Regions from separate parts of the Homo sapiens genome. Here region 2 is linked to region 1. A link means that fine-mapping ties the variant in region 1 to the plasma level of a protein whose gene starts in the linked region. Region 1 holds a variant in brackets. A gene starts in the other region. All regions are shown on their forward strands.

Region 1 (2,925 bases):
GCAGTGGCGCGATCTCGGCTCACTGCACCCTCTGCCTCCCAGGTTGAAGTGATTCTTCTGCCTTTGCCTTCCGAGGAGCGCATGCACCACTACGCCTGGCTGATTTTTGTATTTTAGAAGAGACTGGGTTTTACCATGTTGGCCAGGCTGGTCTCAAACTCCTGACCTTAAGTGATCTGCCTGCCTTGGCCTCCCAAAGTGCTGGGATTACAGGCTTGAGCCTCTGTGCTTGGCCCCTAGACCAGTTTGTTTGAAAGGGGAAAAAAGGACAGGTAAAATGTGGTAAAGGGCATTCTTGATCTCTTCTCAAAACCTACGTGTGGGAAATGCAAATGGGGGAAATACCCTTGTAAATATAGTTATTTTGAAAGCAGTGGACCAGGTGTGGTGGCACACTCCTGTAATCCCAGCCTTTTGGGAGGCGGAGGGGGGTGGATCACTTGATGTTGAGACCAGCCTGGGCAACATGGCGAAACCGCATTTCTACTAAAAATACAAAAATTAGCCACGCATAGTGGTGCATGGCTGTAATCCCAGCTACTCGGGAGACTGAGGCAGGAGAATTGCTTGAACCTGGGAGGCGGTGGTTGCAGTGAGCCGAGATAGTGCCACTGCACCCCAGCCTGGGTGACAGAGCAAGACTCCATCTCAAAAAATAAAAATTAAAAAAAAAAAAAAGAAAGTAGAGAGGGTGCAGAGGCTGTGGTTGTCCAGAGTGGTATGTTGAACAGTGTTAACCTGCCAAGAGGTATCTGAGTTTGTAAAAGAAAACTATTTACAGTTGAAGCACATAGCATGTATGGAAATTAGAAATTTGGTGGTGGCGCTAGGGGAAAGGCCAAGAGATGTAATGGGGCTTTGAGCCTACCTGTCTAGCTAGCACTGAGCTTCACATTTAAGAGAGAGAGATGAGCACCTTCTCAAATAGTATGACTGAACTCACAGCTGCATTTCCTTCCTTGTGAGTAGTTTTTGGAGTTGTCTGCCTGTGAGCCCATTAACTC[C/T]CTGTCATCTATATAACAGCAGGATGGTTTTTTTGGTTTGTTTTTGTTTTGTTTTACCCTCAACATCTGGAGGATAGATAGGATGCCCTCTCAAAAGTAAAAAAGGCAGCTGGGCTGTGGTGGCTCACGCCTGTAATCCTAGCACTGTAGGAGGCCAAGGAGGATGAATCTTTTGAGCGCAGGAGTTCTAGACCAGCCTGGGCAACATGGCGAGACCCTGTCTCTACAAAAACTATTAAAAAAATTGCCAGGCACAGTGGCTCACGCCTGTAATCCCAGTACTTTGGGAGGCTGAGGCAGGCGGATCTCTTGAGCCTAGGAGTTCGAGACCAGCCTGGGCAACGTAGCAAAACCCCATCTCTACAAAAAATATAAAAAATTAGCTGGGTGTGGTGATACATGCCTGTGGTCCCAGCTGAGGTGGGAGGATTCCTTTAGCCTGGGAGGCAGAGGTTGGCTGTGAGCCGTGATCGTGCCACTGCACTCCAGCTTGGGTGAGACCCTATCTCTAAATAAATAAGTAAGTAACTAAGCTGGGCCTGGTGGCCCACGCCTGCAGCCCTAGCCCTAGAGGCTGCGGGTGGGAGGATTGTTTGAGCCCAGGAGTTCGAGGCTGCAGTGAGCTTATGATCATGTACCTGCACTCCAATCTGGGTGACAGAACAAGACCCTGTCTCGGGAGGAAAACAACAAAGGCTTATAATGGCAATCATCCTCAACAGTGGAGATGCTCTCTACCCCACTCAGGAGCCTGGTAGGTGTATATATTTCCAGCTGGGAACCACCAACAGATACGGTATATTTGAGACCTTTTAGCAAGGGCATAAGGTCCCTTGTAATCTGGGTTTCTTTCTTTCTTTCTTTCTTTCTTTTTTTTTTTTTTTTTAAGACGGAGTTTCGCTCTTGTTACCCCTCAGCCTCCCGAGTGGCTGGGACTACAGGTGTGCACCACCACACCTGGCTAATTTTGTATTTTTAGTAGAGACAAGGTTTCTCCATGTTGGTCAGGCTTGTCTCGAACTCCTGACCTCAGGTGATCAGCCTGCCTTGGCCTCCAAAAGTGCTGGGATTACAGGCGTGAGCCACCGAGCCTGGCCTACTGCCTGAGTTTCTAATCCAATATGTCCAGTTACTAATTGTGTATCCCAGGATACATCACTTAAACCTGTCTGTGCCACATCTGCACAGTTGGGATATTAGTAGAACAGTCCTATGGGATAAATTAATATATGTAGTATGCAACAATCTTAGAACAATGTCTAGTACACAGTAAGCAAATAAATGCTAGTTGTGTATAATTTTGTATGAATATATATTTATAGGCAGATCTCCCCTACTAGATAGACAGTAAATTCCTTGAGGATAGGGTGTGCATATGGTTCAGAGTGCCTGCAACTTAAGAGGATGCCAAATGTTTGAAATGAGATTGTGCCCTTCTTTCAGAGAATTCTGTTGTTGAGCATTTTGTTGTCAATGTATGTCTCTACCATGCTTTGGAATTAGAAACCACTTACTGAGATCCCGATGGTTGGAGCATCAAAGCATGGTTCTTCATCCTGATTTCTCTAGCCTCCAGTCTCCAAACCCAGTGTAATTTTATGTACTCACCTCTTTTTTTTCTCCATTTAATACTTCCAGTCTTTTTTTTTTTTTTTTTTTTGAGATGGAGTCTTGCACTGTTACCCGGGCTGGAGTGCAGTGGCACGATCTTGGCTCACTGCAACCTCTGTCTCCCGAGTTCAAGCGATTCTCCTGCCGCAGACTCCCGAGTAGCTGGGGTTACAGGCACCCGCCACCATGGCCAGCTAATTTTTTGTATTTTTAGTAGAGATGAGGAGCTAATTTGTATTTGTAGTAGAGACGGGGTTTCACTATGTTGGCCAGGCTGGTCTTGAACTCCTGACCTAGTGATCCACCCGCT
Region 2 (2,925 bases), not on the chromosome of region 1:
AGTAGGCACTAATCATTAGGGAAATGCAAATTAAAACCACAGTAAGATACCATCTCATACCAGTCGAATGGCTATTATTAAAAAGTCAAAAAATAACAGATGCTGATGAGGTAGTGGAGAAAAGGGTTCACTTATACACCTTTGATGGGAGTGTAAATTAGTTCAACCATTATGAAAGATAGCATGGTGATTCCTTAAAGACCTAAAACCAGAAATTTGACCCAGCAATCCCATTACTGGTATATACCCAAAGGAATATAAATCTATCATAAAGACACATGCATGCATCTGTTCATGGCAGCACTGTTGACAATAGCAAAGACATGCAATCAACCTAAATGCCCATCAATGGTAGACTGGATAAAGAAAATGTGATACACATATACAAAGGAATACTATGCAGCTATAAAAAAGAATGAGATGATGTCCATTGCAGGAACATAGATGAAGCTAGAGGCCGTTACCCTTAACAAACTAATGGAGGAACAGAAAACCAAATACCACATGTTCTCACTAATAATTGGGATCTAAATGATGAGAACACATGTACACATAGAGGAGAATGACAGACACCGGAGCCTACTTGAAGGTGGAGGGTGAGAGGAGGGGCAGGATCAGAAAAACATAACTATGTAGTACTAGTCTGAATACCTGGGTGATGAAATAATATGTACAACAAACCCCTGTGACATGATTTTACCTATATAACAAACCTACACATGTAGCCCTGAACCTAAAAGTTAAAAAAAATCAAATTATACTGTTAAATTATTAGCATGATTTATAAACAATATTGTTTTAGGATAAAGAATTTAATTGCTTGGCAATTGCAAATTATTAAATTAAATATCAATATGTTAGGGAGGCTAATTCAAATGATATAAATATTTAGGCTATAACAAAAGGCAGCTATATATTATTAACCTCACCTCAAAAAGGGGCATAATTTCCATTCCCTTGACTTTAAGGGTAAATTAAGAGAAATTTGTAAAGCACTCAAAAGAATATTCAATTCAATATGTGGTGGACAGTTGAGAAATTATGTGTTATCTATGTCATGGGAAAGCAACTTTTAAAAAGAAAACATTTCCTCTGAGGTTTTCACAAATAAGTGAAACTGTGAACCCTCATATGTACTGTGAAAGGACAATTTGAGGAGCATCTCTGATTAGCAGCAGATTTATTATTCTTTCCTCATTTCATGTTATACTTAATAAAACAAAACATACCTGTATACACACACATTCACTCACATTGAAGATGCAAGATGAAGAAAGATACATGACATTGAATGTACAGTCAAAGAAAAGGAGTTCTGCCCAAACATCTCAACTTACATTTAAAGGTATGGAATTTAATTTCATTTTTTCAATTGGTGTGAATTAACATGGTAGTTTCCCGTATCCTGTTCCATTGTGTTATTGGACTGTTTCAGTATTTGGGTGCTTTTCTTTCTCCGTCTCTGTATCTCTCTCACCTGTCCTCTCTTTCAATATTAATAATGATTTAAAAATAACAACCTCTCTTACCATTTAAGAAACACCAGTTTCCGGCACTATACAGAATGTTTTATCTATGTTCCTTCATTTAATCTTACAAATTTACTATGAGATAATCTCTCTCTCTCCCATTTATCAATGTGGAACTAACACTTACTTGTAATATTTTGTCTGATATAATTTCTTAAGGACATTCTCTGAGGAAATATGCATACTCAATTAAAATTAATAATTTCAAATTAGTGAATATTTGCTGCCATTCACCTCCTTATCATTCATAGAATATGGTGTTTTAATGCTATTTTTTTTTTTTGAGACGGAGTTTCACTGTTGTTGCCCAGGCTGGAGTGCAATGGCATGATCTCGGCTCACTGCAACCTCTGCCTCCCAGGTTCAAGCAATTCTCCTGCCTCAGCCTCCTGAGTAGCTGAGATTATAGGTGCCCGCCACCATGCCTGGCTAATTTTTTGCGTTTTTAGTAGAGATGGGGTTTTACCATGTTGGCCAGGCTGGTCTTGAACTCCTGACCTCAGGTGATCCACCCACCTGAGTCTTCCAAAGTGTTGGGATTATAGGCATGAGCCACCGCGCCCAGCCTTTAATACTAATTTTTAATTCAACTTCTCAAAAACTTTATGCTTTTCACCAAGTTGACTCAAAATAAAGTTTATACACCAGCAATCAACATTTTAATTTGCTACTTCAAGCATACCCTCCATACACAATGCAATTCCATCATGCCACCTTAATGTGATTTGGCAAAAGAGATAAGCAGAAATTAAAGACACAAATAATCACAGTTATAGAGACTGTCTGTTCTGTTCTGTTGCTTTCTAAATATTTCTCTTTTAATAACTTCACCCATGAAAATTTTACTTATCTCTTGAGTCCTTCCACAAGTATCATCCATCAGTGATTCATCTTAGAGTTACATACGTGCTATGTATAAGAAATTTATTGCCTCTTCCATGTGAATTTTTAGATTCCCATATTTTCAAGTCTTTACTTCCTACACTCAATTTTTATTTCATTTTTGGAAATTAGAGATATTAAACCTGAAAGACTACAACATGTAGTGACTTCTCTGCAGACTTTTTTCCACACTCTGTTCATAAATGTCTCTCTGAAGCAAAAATGTGCAGATTTTCGGCTCCCAGATATTTAAGTGACACATACTAATATTTATGTCTTGTACCTTTAGCTAATATTTATTAAAGCTTGAGGTAAGACGTATTTTATGTGAATTAGATTGACAATGTGAGCCTTGGGGTTATGATGTTCATTCATTTAACTTAATTTTGTGATGACATATTTGTAAATCTTTTCTCATATATTGAAAAACCTTTGTTGCCAGTGATAGTAAGAAATTACATAATTGCTCTATCCCACTATACATATGTAGTAGTTTCAGAATCACTATAGAAAT

Direction of the effects. Positions count from the first base shown, and alleles are read on the strand shown. Strength reflects both the effect of a copy and how common the allele is.
As copies of C replace T in region 1, the plasma level of the protein whose gene starts at base 1,197 in region 2 goes up (weak association).

The links. PIP is the posterior inclusion probability: the model's chance that the variant is causal. Protein levels are from antibody-based Olink assays in UK Biobank. Linkage for the fine-mapping came from a reference panel and not from the study's own genotypes, which makes the PIPs less certain.
Region 2: KLRF1 starts here. The variant in region 1 is fine-mapped to the plasma level of the KLRF1 protein (UK Biobank, PIP above 0.99).

Annotation. Positions count from the first base shown.
Region 1 is chr1:24,748,564-24,751,488 of GRCh38, forward strand. The region is part of intron 1 of CLIC4 (chloride intracellular channel 4); the gene reads left to right. Among named protein-coding and RNA genes, the nearest start is that of CLIC4, 4.6 kb to the left of the region's middle. RefSeq lists a silencer at 917-996. The variant C/T (reference allele first, on the strand shown) is at 1,005.
Region 2 is chr12:9,826,285-9,829,209 of GRCh38, forward strand. KLRF1 (killer cell lectin like receptor F1) reads left to right here and starts at 1,197. Exons shown (of 6, transcript NM_016523.3): 1 at 1,197-1,345. The coding sequence starts at 1,261.